4 linked regions of the Homo sapiens genome follow. The protein of the gene in region 2 purifies or fractionates together with the protein of the main gene of each other region. This does not show direct contact. Each region holds a gene or a part of one and is shown on either strand. Other genes may lie near its edges.

Region 1 (3,691 bases), on a different chromosome or scaffold from region 2:
AGAGCTATCTGTATATGTTTACACTCCCAAGTTTTTCTTCTTTACATTATGTGTTATCTAATGGCTTATTTTTCTTGTGCTTTTAGAAAAGATGTATAGGATGAATTGCTGCTGCACAGAGTTACAGAAACAAGTAGGTAAAATTTCCTTTAAGTGAAATTATACTCCTAACGTTTTTAGAAATTAAATCATATGGTTTCTTTTTCACCCACAGGTTGAAAAACATGAACATATTCTTCTCTTCCTCTTAAACAATTCAACCAATCAAAATAAATTTATTGAAATGAAAAAACTGTTAAAAAGTTAAGTAAGTTAAATCGTATGTTTTCGCCTCTTCTGTGATCACCAATAGGACATCTTCAGGCATATTGGCAGGATAGAGCTAATGGAGTGAAACCTATTGTAAGGCTGTACTTTCGTGATTTAATGACCTGAGGTTTGGTCATAATGCTTCTGCTGTTTTTGTAGGTTTATCTGATCGTTTTCCTTTGCTACTGCTAATGGAACTGAACCCCCAGGGGTATTCCAGTTGTAATAGCCTTTCCTTACTGTTGTTTGGTTCTGTGAATGCCTATGTTATTGATATGTGGAGGGACTTGTAAAACTTGTTGTGACATAAAGCTTAGCCTCAGATTTTTTGTCTAGATCTGAAATTAACTCAGAGCTCACTTATGCACATTGCTGTAAATATGTTTAGCACTTTTTGCGAGGGGTATCTAAAGGGCCAAGAACGGAAAGTGGATCTAAAGGGCCAAGAACGGAAAGTGGGCTGCACTGAGGGTATTTTTCATTTAAAAACAAAACATACTCCCTGCTTTTGGCTGTGGTGATTCTAGTGTCTAAAGAACATACTGGTGAGTTTTAAACCAGTGTTCCTCCCCACCCCACCCCCATATTTTAAATGTCTGGGATCCTTTGTTGTAAGATGGTTCTCAGAAATAAATTTTTGATTAAGAGCCAATTAGAACTTCTGATCAGGGCTGGGGGTGGTGGCTCACGCCTGTAATCCCAGCACTTTGGGAGGCTGAGGCGGGCAGATCACCTGAGCCCAGGCGTTCGAAGTCAGCCTGGCCAAGATGGCGAAACACTGCCTCTACTTAAAATACAAAATTAGCTGGGCATGGTGGTGCACACCTGTTAACCCAGCTACTTGGGAGGCTGAGACAGGAGAATCGCTTGAATCCAGGAGGCGGCGGTTGCAGTGAGCCAAGACTGCTATTATACTCCAGCCTGGGTGACAGAGTGAGAGTTTGTCTCAAAAACAAAACAAAACAAAACAAAAAAAAAAACAACCTCTAATCTCAGAATAAAGTTGTCTCTCCTCACCACTTTGAGTTGTTACAGTTCCAGCCAAAAGCAAAGGAACTTTGATTTACTTAATATGTGCACTTTTGTTGGTTAACAAATTTATATTAAACTGTTTGGAAATAGTTCAAGAGGTGGCTATAATACTCTTCATGAATCTTTTATGGGTGTAGTAACTCTCAAGTAGGAACCAACTGCCAACTGTGTTAAAACATATCTTTCATGTGGTAATAGACCGTTTCTTTGCGTTTTAAGAAAGGTCAATTGAATTATAAGCTAAATGTAATTAATGCAAGATCAACTATCTTGACTCTCATGTTTCCTTTTACAAATTTTGGGTTATTACAACTTTCAGTCCTTTCTAATACATTGTCTTAATACTGACTGTTTTGTATGTTTAAGCTTAAAATCTTTTAATCTTTTTTTTTTTTTTTTTTGGAGACGGAGTCTTGCTCTGTCACCCAGGCTGGAGTGCAATGGCGTGATCTCGGCTCACTGCAAGCTCCACCTCCCAGGTTCACGCAATTCTCCCACATCAGCCTCCCAAGTAGCTGGGACTACAGGCGCACACTGCCACACCCGGCTAATCTTAAACTTAATGGTGATTTTAATTTCATAGATCAAGGAACATGCAATGACATGGATTTCTGGAATTTAGTCCTAGTATCAAGTCACTATATATATATATATTTTTTTTTTATTTTTTATTTTTATTTTTTTTTGAGACAGTCTCGCTCTGTTGTCCAGGCTGGAGTGCAGTGGCGCTATCTCAGCTCACTACAACCTCCGCCTCCCGGGTTCATGCCATTCTCCTGCCTCAGCTTCCCAAGTAGCTGGGACTATAGGTGCCCGCCACCACACCCAGCTAATCTTTTTGTATTTTTAGTAGAGACAGGGTTTCACCGTGTTAGCCAGGATGGTCTCGATCTCCTGACCTCGTGATCTGCCCTCCTCGGCCTCCCAAAGTGCTGGGATTACAGGCGTGAGCCACTGCGCCCGGCCACCAAGTCATTACATTTTTAACCAAGTTGGTTGGCCTGTATGTTCTTCTTATCTGTGTAACAGGCATTTTTCCTAAGGATATTGAGTGTGCTTACACATAAAACTTAAAGTGAAATTTCATTGTTTCTTGATAGATTTAAGACAGGGCTTAGTAGCTTTCAAAAGAAAACTTGATTTAAAGCATAGTAGTTGAACTGGATTTTTCCTGACTGTGGGAATAAATAGATATTTTATTTACATTTGAATACAGTGCAATACCTTGTGTTTGGGTAGTACGTATTTACAAAGCATTTTTACATCTACTCACATACTTAATCTTCACAATGCCCTTGAAAAGAAAGTAGGACCCATTTTACAGTTAAGGAAGCTGAGGCTCAGAGAGGGTTACATGACTGTCCAAAATCACATACAGGCTGAAACACTAGGTCTTACGACTTAAAACAGTTGTGTCAACTTCCCTGAGCTGCTACGTGTACAGTATCCTTTTAGATCAGATCAGTTACATAGGGCATGAAACTAGAGGGTTACATTATTAGGAAAAAATAATGTACATGATTGCTTAAGCATTACTTCATTGTGGTGAAAATAGAGCTGAATATTTACTCCTTTAAATTATTCTTTGAGATAGAATGGGTGTAAAAATGTATTTTGGCTGGGCATGGTGGCTCAGGCCTGTAATCCCAGCACTTTTGGGAGGCTGAGGAGGGCAGGTCACATGAGGCCCAGGAGTTTGAGACCATCCTGGCCAACATGGTGAAACTTTGTCTCTACCAAAAAAAATATAGAATTAGCCAGGTGAGGTGGCGTGCACCTGTAGTCCCAGCTACTGGGGAGGCTGAGGCAGGAGAATTGCTTGAACCCAGGAGCCGAAGGTTGCAGTGAGCCGAGATGGCACCACTGCACTCCAGCTTGGGCAACAGAGTGAGACCCTGTCTCAAAAAAATAAAATAAAAGACAAACACATGTATTTCATCATCTGGAGAAATTTAATTGTTAGCAATTTAATTGTAAAATTGCTAAAACAGAAGTGCTGTGGTGATATGAACATAAAACCCTCTGTAATCTGTTGCTCAGGTGATGTTTCAACACACAAGTTAATGTCAGATATCTTTTATATATAAGGAGAGTGCAAACAACTATATGTTATATTTGTGAAGGGGAGTATAAACAGCTGTACTTAGCATATATTATGCTATGTTATGGTGGTCATTAATTTTCTTAACTGACAGGTCTGGCTTAAATGCGTAATTTCAGTTAAAAGTGAATATTTTGTTTGCTTGTATTTGAAATTAAAAGCCATAGCAATTGAGTTTTTGTGTAAGGCATAATGATAGTTGATTTTTTTTCTTTTTCAGAAACAGCATCTCTTGGAGGTAAACCCTTA
Region 2 (3,327 bases):
TTCTTAATCTCTCCTTTATCCCTCTTTGTCCAACCTTTCAACAGGTCATGTCATATCTACTCCATAATATGTCCTGATTCTATCCGCTTGTCACTTGCACTGTTGGCCTGTCTTACCCACATCATTATCCTCTCCTTCTTAGACAACTATAATATAATAATAACCTTCTAACTGGTCATCTTGCATTCACTTCTGCTTTTACCTGAGTCTCCACATAACAATGTATTTTTAAAATATGTAGTTTTAAAAGACAGATCTCATCCTATTCTACTCCTTAAAACAGTTGAGTGGCTATTACTCTTACCATAATGCCCAAATACTTTTTTGTAGCCTACATCATCTTAAATAATCTGACATCTTCTGTAGGTTTATCTCTATTCTTTCTACTCCAGCCACATTTGCTCCTTCGTGCCCCAGGAGCTGTGTACAAGCAATCACCTCTGCTTGAAATCTTCCTTTACACACCTCTCTTCACCCTGCTAATTTTTATTCTTCAGTTCCCACATAAATTTCACTTTTTCAGGGAAGTTTTATTTTCTCATATGAGGTTAAGTTACTTTTAAAAAGCTTTTTGTACTTTTTTTTTTAAGGACTTAATCACAGTTGTACTTTCTTACATGACACTCTTTATCATCTGTCTCTCCCATTAAACTGTAAACTCTTTGATAGCAATGACTGTCTTACTCACCTTAACATCTAACCAGGGGTCTGGCTCCTAGTAAAAGCATGCAGTGAATATTTTTTGAATGAACTGAATGATTGAATACCTTTCAACAAACTAGAACAATGTCAAATAGTAAAACTAACTTGTTTTTTGTAGCATTTCATTTAGATAGAAGAAATTCACCACCAAATAGTTTGACACCGTGTCTAAAGATTCGGAATATGTTTGATCCCGTTATGTAAGTATTATGATCAGGGGTACATGTAACTCTTATTCTGAATATTTGGCTGGAAAATGCATGATATTCTTATAATGGTGTGTCTGTAATTGAAAATGTTTTTCTTCTGAATCTCTACCACAGAAATGTTATGTTTTTCTCTTTCATTAAATTCCAAGCAAAGATTTGGCCAAAGGACACTAATGTATAAAGATTTGTAAAACTTTTATAAATCTTTGTATTCCTTATGAATCGTCATAGCAGATAGATAAATGCTTGAGGCAAATTAATGACTCACAATGACAAAGAGTACCCTTTATTAAATGTGTAAGTCATTATACATGACTGTCAATATTTTTGCCTCAGTAGAAAATATAGATACAATCACTGCTGCTTACAAATTTCAAATCTCAAATTGTAAAAAGTTTCCTACAAAGATGTATATACCTGCTTCTCTACAAAGTCCTGTCTCCACTTGTCAATATAATATTTGAAGAACTTTTCAGACTTTATAATTCCAACAACATATGCTTCCAGAGAATAGCACAGTCAAAAGTGACTGCCTTAGAATTCACAGTATTTCATATATAAGCTGTAATAGTTCTTAGAATTAGCTTCCTGAGGGCACTGCTTATCTATCCAGTGATAGTACAGATCAAATTCTGTTTGTTTTAAAAGTCCCAACAGTGGCAATTACAATATGTATACAATACCCCCAAAGTCTCATCTAATCACTCATTGATGAAATTCCAAATAAGTGACAGCAAAATTGGAAATGTGAGGAAGCAGTATGCACACGTGTTTGCACGTGGGCACGCGCACACACACACACACACACCCCCCCCACACACACAGAGACAAACACCGCCTCTATTTTGCAGAGATAGAAACAATTAGTAGTGTGATGATACCTCTGTTGGGAATCTTACCTCATGCCTTAGGAATTGGCAAGTCCACTATTTTATTACCTAAGATGAAAATTTGTGATTTGAAGTGAAGTCACTTTCCTCTCTCTCCTGCCATCTTTGTCTCACAAGCAAGACAAATGTCCCTTACTACAGCAGAAACACCTTAAAACTGTCATTATAGTAAGGTGACTGTACAAAATGTTAGTCCTGTATCAATTATTTTGGAAAAGAGAAGCTCAAATGTAGTATTTACTAAGAATTTTCTTTAGGAATTTGAACCTATCATTACAATTAAAGAAAATAACATTCGGCTGGGCACAGTGGCTCACACCTATAATCCCAGTGCTTTGGGAAGCCGAGGTGGGTGGATCACTTGAACTCAGGAGTTCGAGACCAGCCTGGGCAATGTGGCAAAACCCCGTCTCTACAAAAAATACAAAAGAAATTAGCCAGAATTGGTGGTGTGTGCCTGTAGTCCCAGCTATCTGGGAGGCTGAGGTGGGAGAATGGTTTGAGCCTGGGAGGCACATATTGCAGTGAGCCGAGATCACGCCACTGCACTCCAGCCTGGGTGACAAAGCGAGACCCTGTCTCAAATAACTAACATTTAACTTTTACAACTTTAATAAGTTCACAACTCATTTAAAGTACTTATTAACAATAGAAAGAAAACAGAAATTACTGTAAGTACACAGGATTTTTAAACATAGGAATGACCCAATCCATTTATTCTGCAGCGGTGGGCTAGTCTTTCATTGCCTCAGCTCTCTGCACTCTTTTTTTTTTTTTTTTGAGACGGAGTCTCACTCTGTTGCCCAGGGTTGAGTGCAGTGGCGTGATCTCGGCTCACTGCAAGCTCTGCCTCCCAGGTTCACGCCATTCTCCTGCCTCAGCCTCCCGAGTAGCTGGGACTACAGACACCTGCCACCACGCCTGGCTAATTTTTTTTTTTTTTTGTATTTTTAGTAGAGACGGGGTTTCACCGTGTTAGTCAGGATGGTCTCGATCTCCTGACCTCATGATCCGCCTGCCTCGGCCTCTCAAAGTGCTGGGATTACAGGCATGAGCCACCGCGCCTGGCCAGCGCTCTGCACTCTTTTACTGGAAAGTGGGAGGAGGGCTGAGACTTCTGAATTGTAATTTTTAAATCTACCTCCTGTTAGTCAACAAGCATTTACTTAATACCAATTAAAATCGTATGTGGTTTTAAAACTATACCAATTCTAGTAATATATATATGTTGTAAGAGACAGTGAAGAATTTTTACCGAGTAGGAATATGGTTGTTGATTTTTGTTTTCATTAACTTTTAGGGAAATAGGGGATCAGTGGCATTTGGCAATTCAAGAAGCAATTTTAGAAAAATGCAGTGATAATGATGGCATTGTTCACATTGCAGTAGACAAAAATTCACGTGAGGTAAAGTAACTTTTGGTATTGAATTTCATGTTTTGGATTTGTTGCTATTAAACTAAGACTATTTTCTTTCTTTTTTAATATCACAGGGTTGTGTATATGTTAAATGTCTGTCTCCAGAAT
Region 3 (3,691 bases), on a different chromosome or scaffold from region 2:
TTGCCTGGCTCCTATTACTCAGAGTAATTGTTGATATTTATCCATGGTGAAGCATGTGTCAGAGTTTATTCCTTTTTATTGCTAAGCAGTGTTCCATTGTGTATCTGTTTTACTACAGTTTGTCCATTCACCTGTTGGTGGACCCTGGGTTGTTTCTGGTTTTGGGCTCTACACCTAGAAGCTGCTATGAACATTTGTGTACAAGTTTTGGTATTGTTAAAGTATAAACTGAGGCAGAATAAAATTTTAAAGAGTTTTGTCTGAGCAAACAGCAATTCATGAATCAGACAGCAACAAATCAAAAGTGATTTGGGACTCCACCAAAGGAATGCAAGTGGAAGACTTCTATAGGATGAACAAGGAAACAAGGCAAAGAAAATATTTGATTAATTATATTTATATAGTTGCCTTGTTTAGTCCATCCTATTGGAAAGTCCCTAGTTATGTAAGTTAGTTGATGGCTTCTAATTGGCGTAGCCTAAGTTTGTTTGTTTCTTTTTTTTTTTTTTTTTTTTTTTTAAGAGACAGGGCTAGAGTGCTTTGGTGCGATCGTAGCTCACTGCAGCTTTGAACTCCTGGGCTCAAGTGATCCTCCCACCTCAGCCTCTCAAGTAACCAGGGCAACATGAACTACAGACATGCATCGCCACGCCTGGCTAATTTTTTAATTTCTTATAGAGGCAAGGTCTCGCTAGCTATATTGCCCAGGCTGATCTCAAATTCTGGCCTCAAGTGATCCTCCTGCTTCAACCTCCCAAGGTGCTTACAGGCATGAGCCACCATGCCCAGCCTGATTTTTCTTTAATATAGGCACAGACAAAAAATAACCAAAGTTTACATTTGCAAACAGCCCAAATTAAGTTTTGCTTCTATTGCTTATATTTGCAAGGTCAAGGTTGTTTTAATGGCTTAACTGGCTTTGTCCAGGGGATTTACAGACCTGGTCTCCATCTTATTTTAATAGTATGAATATGTGCTTTCATTTCTTTTAGGTAAATATCTAGGAATGGAATGGCTGGATCATATGAGTAGGCTTACTCACTTATTAAGAAACTTGGCCTGGACTACATAGCAAGACTCTCTCTCTAAAAAAAGATTTTTTTTTAATTAGCCAAGTGTATTAGTCTGGGTTCTCTAGAGGGACAGAACTAAGAGGATATATGTATATATGAAAGGGAGTTTATTAAGGAGAATTGACTCACACCATCACAAGGTGAAGTCCCATGATAGGTCATCAGCAAGTTGAGGAGCAAGGAAGCCAGTGGTGGATCAGTACGAGTCCCAAAAGTAGGGAAGCTAACAGTGCAGCCTTCAGTCTGTGCAGCCAAAGGCCCAAGAGCCCCTGGAAAACCACTGGTGTAAGTCCAAGAGTCCAAAAGCTAAAGAACTTGGAGTCTGATGTTCTAGGTCAGGAAGCATCCAGCATGGGAGAAAGATGAAGTCCATAAGACTCAGCAAGTCAGCCCTTCCATCTTCTCCTGCCTGCTTTATTCTACCCCCGCTGGCAGCTGAGTAGATGGTGCCCAACCAGATTGAGTGTGGGTCTACCCCTCCCAGTCCACTGACTCAAATGTTAATTTCCTTTGGCAACACCCTCACAGACACACCCATGAACAATACTTTGTATCCTTCAGTTCAGTCAAGTTGACACTCAATATTAGCCATCCCACCAGGTGTAGTGGCTCCCACTTGTAGCCCCAGATACTCGGGAAGCTGAGGCAGGAGGATCACTTGAGCCCAGGAGTTAGGCTACATTGAGCTATAATATGATAGAGGCACTGCGCTACAGCTCTGGTAACAGAGCAAGATGCTGTCTTTTTTTTTTTTTTAATAAGAAAATAATCTAACTTGTTAAGTTCATAACTTATTAACAAAACTATTTTATATTCCCATCAGCAGTGTATGAAAGTTCTAGTCCTTCCACGTTAACAACACTTGGTATGGTCATTCTTTTTAATGTTAGCCATTCTATTTTTAGCCCTTCTGTGTAGTGGTGTCTTATTATGGTTTGATTTGCATTTCCCTAATGACTAACAATGTTGAGCATCTTTTTTTTTTTTTTTTTTTTTTTTTTGTGGAGACGGGAGTCTCGCTCTGTCGCCCAGGCTGGAGTGCAGTGGCGGGATCTCGGCTCACTGCAAGCTCCGCCTCCCGGGTTCACGCCATTCTCCTGCCTCAGCCTCCCAAGTAGCTGGGACTACAGGCGCCCGCCACTACGCCCGGCTAATTTTTTGTATTTTTAGTAGAGACGGGGTTTCACCGTTTTAGCCGGGATGGTCTCGATCTCCTGACCTCGTGATCCGCCCGCCTCGGCCTCCCAAAGTGCTGGGATTACAGGCGTGAGCCACCGCGCCCGGCCGAGCATCTTTTTCAAGTGTTTATTTGAAGGGTTCAGGCCTTTTCCCACATTTTAATTGAGTTGTGTTTGTTATTATTTCATTTTGATCATTTTAAAATATATTCTTGGTACAAGTCCTTTATAAGACGCATGCTTTGCCCATATTTTCTCCAGGTCCATCACTTGTCTTCTCATTCTCTTAACAATGTCTTTGAAAGAGCACAGATTGCTAATTTTGATGAAATTCAATTTATCATTTATGCTATTGAATATCATATCTAAGAAATCTTTGCCTAACTCAGAGTGACAAAGATTTTATCCTATGCTTGCTTTTGGTTTTTTTCCATTTAGGTCTATGATTCACCTTGAATTACATGCTAGTGGATGTGGAGTGGTATCTAATTGTGCTTTTGATTTGCATTTCCTTTTTGGCTAATGGTGTTGAGCATCTTTTCATGTATTTATATAGGCCATTTATATATCTTCTTTAGAGAAATGTCTGTTCAGATCTTTTGCTTGTCGAGTTATCTTTTTTTTTTTTTTTTTTTGCTTTTTAAAGTAAGACAGACAAATGATTTACAAATGTTCTCTAATTGTATGGGTTATTTCTTCACTTTCTTGTTGATGTCCTTTGCAACACAAGTTTTTTTATTTTGATGAGGTCCAGTTAATATTTGTTTTGTCTTTGGTGTCATATCTAAGAAGCTGTTGCCTGATCCAAGGTCACAAATATTTACACATAGGTTTTGTTCTAAGAGTTTTCTAGTTTTGACTCTTATATTCAGATATTTGACCCATTTTGAGATAATTTTTGAATGTGGTGTGAAGTAGGAGTCTAGTTTCATTCTTTTGCCTGTAAATATCCAGTTGTCCCAGTACTATTTATTGAAAAAACTATTCTTTCTCCCATTGAACTGCCTTGCTATTCTTGTTGAAAATCAACTAACCATAAATGTGATGATTTATTTTTGGGCTTTAAGTTCCATTCCATTGACTATATGTCTATTTCTATGCCATACCACATTGTCTTAATTACCTGGGGCTCTGTAGTAATTTTTGGAATTGGGAAGTGTTTTCCTTCAATTTCATTTTTCTTGTTCAATATTATTTGGGTTATTCTGGGTTTCTTGAATTTGTATAAATTTTAAGATCAGCTTGCCAATTTCTGCAAGAAGTCCACTGGGATTCTTGAAGAGGATTGTGTTTAATCTGTACATTAATTGGGGAATATTACCATTTTAGCAATATTAAGCCTTCCAATCATGAGTGTGGTGTCTTTCTGTTTATTTAAATCTTAACTTTCTTCCAACAATGTTTTGTAGTTTCTATGAATACAAGTCTTGCAGTTCTTTT
Region 4 (3,691 bases), on a different chromosome or scaffold from region 2:
AAGGCCTCCAATACTGTTGGCATTAATTTTTAATCAGTTAACAATATTTAATATGAGAGAAACATAAAACAGTGCAACTAAGCAATTTTAAAATCATCTACATTGACCTTTGTGTTGAATATATCAATTTGAAAAGAAAATGGTTAAGATTTTCCAGTAAAGCTTTTGGTTTTATAGTTATGCTTAGTTGGAGCTTAAAGATAGTATTAAAACATTATTCTTTTCTTCTTTCAAACAAAAAGAAACCCGTTGGGGACATGTTTAATGTATTTTTAAAAAATACATATTATCTAATGTAACATATTTAAAAAGAACAAAGCAGGGGAAAAATCTTCATCTGGCAACTATGCATTAACATCATACAATAATGTCGACTTTACGGAGTTCAGGCTCCATTTTACTTAAAGTTCTAGGAAGATTTGTCAAGGTTAAGTTTTTGCTGTCTCCAGTTCCCACCTGCCCTGGATAATACGAATGACAGGCTTGGTTTTTTACAGAGAATACTTATTTGATTGTCATGTAAATATATATTACCCCTAGTGAGGGTTATGCAGAGACAGATGAACTTCCTGGTCCAAACAGATAGTAATTTTTATCTTCAAAGGAAACCAAAAAGAGTATCCTTGGCAAATGTGCAATGAATAAAGTCTTGCTCTGCTCTATACAAGTTAATGCTCTCTAAACATCAAACATCTCCACATCTCCATGCCTGAAGTGAAGCTGTCAAAGACACACAGAATTTACAATTGTGAGAGATTCTTTGGTATGTAAATGAGCTGTTTCCTCATAAACTGCAGACTCTATCTCACTTACAATGTACTTTAAATATTACATTTAAATATATGTGGTTTAGATATTTTCTAATTTGTTATCTGTGCCAGAAGCTAGGGCATGTGGTTTTCACCCAAACAAGTTAAAGACATGATATTTTGACCTATAAGAACAAAGATAATTTAAATGGAGCAACCTGTTCTTTATAGGGGAAACTTGGTTTCATTTAGACAGCATGAAGCTGGAACTCATTGTGACAAACCAGTTTTATCTTTGCTACGCATTTGCTGCATCATTCTCCCCTCCCTGACACAGGTTACTGAAGTGTTGAGAAAAACAAAAGAAGGAAAAACTCTTAGTATTTCAAACTTAGTTTTAATATGGTCTAGGGCATTAGTGAGCTCGTGGATGTGAGAGATTCAGTTTCCATTTATACAGACGTTCAAAATACATATTTAGCAAACTTTCCTTGGAAAATTGTCTGTTGCCTTTGAAAATAAAATTATCATGTGATTAGGGGAATTTTCTGTTTGAGGAAGACATTTAATATAATGTCAAGACAAAAATAAGAGATATGAAGTGGCACTTCTCTGACATTCACTGCTGGAGCTATTATTTTTGCCCATGGTTATTCTGATTTAACCTATATATTATTGACTAGGGGAAAAAGCGTACTGTAAAATCTGAAAGTTACTACAGTATAGTAAAATGCCAAGTTTGTGAATTTAAATCTGCAGAAATATTAGGCATTGCATTTAGAAAAAGGCAAGTTACCTCCATCTGAAATATAACAAAATTTTAGATTCTATGGTATTAATTATCATCCTAGATGTAGATTTATGAAGCAGTATGTCATGCCAGAGGTTTGGTTTTATTCAATATTTTAATACCTATTACGTACCAAATTGAATGCCTGACAATGTGGACACAAAAATGAATGATAAAAGGTCCCTGCTACATTGCAAAACAAAAAGAAAAGAGCAAAAAATAACAGTGAGAATAAAGACTGGACAGATTATAAAACATTTGATTCCAATTTGAATTGCAGCCATGTCTCTTTTTATTGCACTTTGCTTTATTGCATGCCACAGATATTGCATTTTTCAAAGAAAATGAATAAAGCTATCACCACCATTTTTCCAACAGCATGCGTTCATTTCCTGTCTCTGTGTCACATTTTGGTAATTCTCACAGTATTTCAAATGTTTTCGTTATTGGTATGTCTGTTTCGGTGATCTGTGACCATTGTTCTTTGATATCAATATTGTAATTGTTTTAGGTCACCACAAGCTGCCCCTATATAAGATGGTGAATTTCATCAATAAATATGTGTGTTCTGACTGCTCCAACAACTAGACATTCCCACTATCTCTCCTTCTCCTCAGGCTTTTCTGTTCCCCGAGACACAACAATATTGAGATTAGGAAAATTAATAACCTACAACAGCCTCTAAGAATTCAAGTGAAAGGAAGAGTTGCATATCTTTACTTTCAATCAAAAGCTGAAAATAATTAAGCTTACTGAGGAAGGCATGCCAAAAGCCAAGATAGGCTGAAAGCTAGGCCTCTTGCACCAAACAGCCAAGTTGTGAATGCAAAGGAAAAGTTCTTGAAGGAAATTAAAAGTGCTACTGAACACATGAATGATAAGAAAGTGAAACAAACTTATTGCTGATGTGGAGAAAGTTTTAGTGGTCTGGATAGAAGATCCAACCAGCCAGAATTCTCTTTCAGCCAAAGCCTAATCCAGACCAAGGCCCTAAATCTCTTCAATTCTGTGAAGATGTGGAGAGGTAAGGAAGCTGCAGAAGAAAAGTTGGAAGCTAGCAGAGGTTGGTTCATGAGGTTTAAGAAAAGAAGCCATCTCCACAACATAAAAGTGCAAGGTGGAAGCAGCAAGGATTGATGTAGAAGCTGCAGCAAGTTATCCAGAAGATCTAGCTAAGATCATTGATGAAGGTGGCTACGCTAAACAACACATTTTCAATGTAGACTAAACAGTCCTCTATTAGAAGAAGATGCCATCCAGGACTTTCAGAGCTAGATAGGAGAAGTCAATGCCTGGCTCCAAAGCTTCAAAGTTTAGGCTGACTCTTGTTAGGGAATAATGCAGCTGGTGACTTCAAGTTGAAGCCAATGCTGGTTTACCATTATGACAATTCCAGGGCTCTAAAGAATTACAATAAATTTACTTTGCCTGTGCTCTATCAATGAGATAATAAAGCCTGCATGACAGCACATCTGTTTACAACATAGTTTACTGAATATTTTAAGCCCACTGTTGAGATTTACTACTCAAAAAAAAAATTCTTCCAAAGTATTTCTGCTTATTGACAATGCACCTGGTCACCCAAGAGCTCTGATGGTGATATACAAAAAGATTAATGTTGTTTTCGTGCCTAACAGAAGATCATTTTTGCAGCTCATGGCTCAAGAAGTAATTTTGATTTTCAAGACATTTTTTAAGAAATACATTTTGTGGGCCAGGCTCGGTGGCTCATGCCTATAATCCCAGCAATTTGGAGGCCAAGGTGGGTGGATCACCTGAGGTCAGGAGTTCAAGACCAGCCTGGCCAATGTGGTGAAACCCTGCCTGTACTAAAAATACAAAAAATCAGCTGGGCGTGGTGGCAGGCACCTGTAATCCCAGTTACTTGGGAGGCTGAGGCAGGAGAATTACTTGAACCCGGGTGGTGGAGGCTGCAGTGAGCCGAGATCGTGCCACTGCACTCCAGCCTGGGGAACAAGAGCAAAACTCTGTCTCAAAAAATAAAATAAAATAAAATAAAATAAAATAATAAAAAATTAAAAAAAACATTTTATAAGGCTATAGGTGACATAGGGAGAAATACCTCTTATGGATCCAAGCAAACTATATTGACAACTTTCTCAAGAATTCACCATTCTAGATGCCATTAAAA

What was found.
Region 1: the proteins of LEMD3 (region 2) and TDRD1 purify together in Homo sapiens (affinity purification with mass spectrometry; one large-scale study listed by BioGRID and IntAct). This does not show direct contact.
Region 3: the proteins of LEMD3 (region 2) and CSGALNACT2 purify together in Homo sapiens (co-immunoprecipitation; one large-scale study listed by IntAct). This does not show direct contact.
Region 4: the proteins of LEMD3 (region 2) and TRDN purify together in Homo sapiens (co-immunoprecipitation; one large-scale study listed by IntAct). This does not show direct contact.

What each region holds. Positions count from the first base shown.
Region 1 is NC_000010.11:114,227,824-114,231,514, forward strand, and holds part of TDRD1 (tudor domain-containing protein 1), read left to right. Parts: intron 1-86; coding exon 87-133; intron 134-214; coding exon 215-307; 3' UTR 308-3,662; coding exon of another isoform or gene 3,663-3,691. UniProt on the Homo sapiens protein: Plays a central role during spermatogenesis by participating in the repression transposable elements and preventing their mobilization, which is essential for the germline integrity.
Region 2 is NC_000012.12:65,242,568-65,245,894, forward strand, and holds part of LEMD3 (inner nuclear membrane protein Man1), read left to right. Parts: intron 1-820; coding exon 821-902; intron 903-3,101; coding exon 3,102-3,207; intron 3,208-3,293; coding exon 3,294-3,327.
Region 3 is NC_000010.11:43,144,916-43,148,606, forward strand, and holds part of CSGALNACT2 (chondroitin sulfate N-acetylgalactosaminyltransferase 2), read left to right. Parts: intron 1-3,691. UniProt on the Homo sapiens protein: Transfers 1,4-N-acetylgalactosamine (GalNAc) from UDP-GalNAc to the non-reducing end of glucuronic acid (GlcUA). Required for addition of the first GalNAc to the core tetrasaccharide linker and for elongation of chondroitin chains.
Region 4 is NC_000006.12:123,626,789-123,630,479, reverse strand, and holds part of TRDN (triadin), read left to right. Parts: intron 1-3,691. UniProt on the Homo sapiens protein: Contributes to the regulation of lumenal Ca2+ release via the sarcoplasmic reticulum calcium release channels RYR1 and RYR2, a key step in triggering skeletal and heart muscle contraction.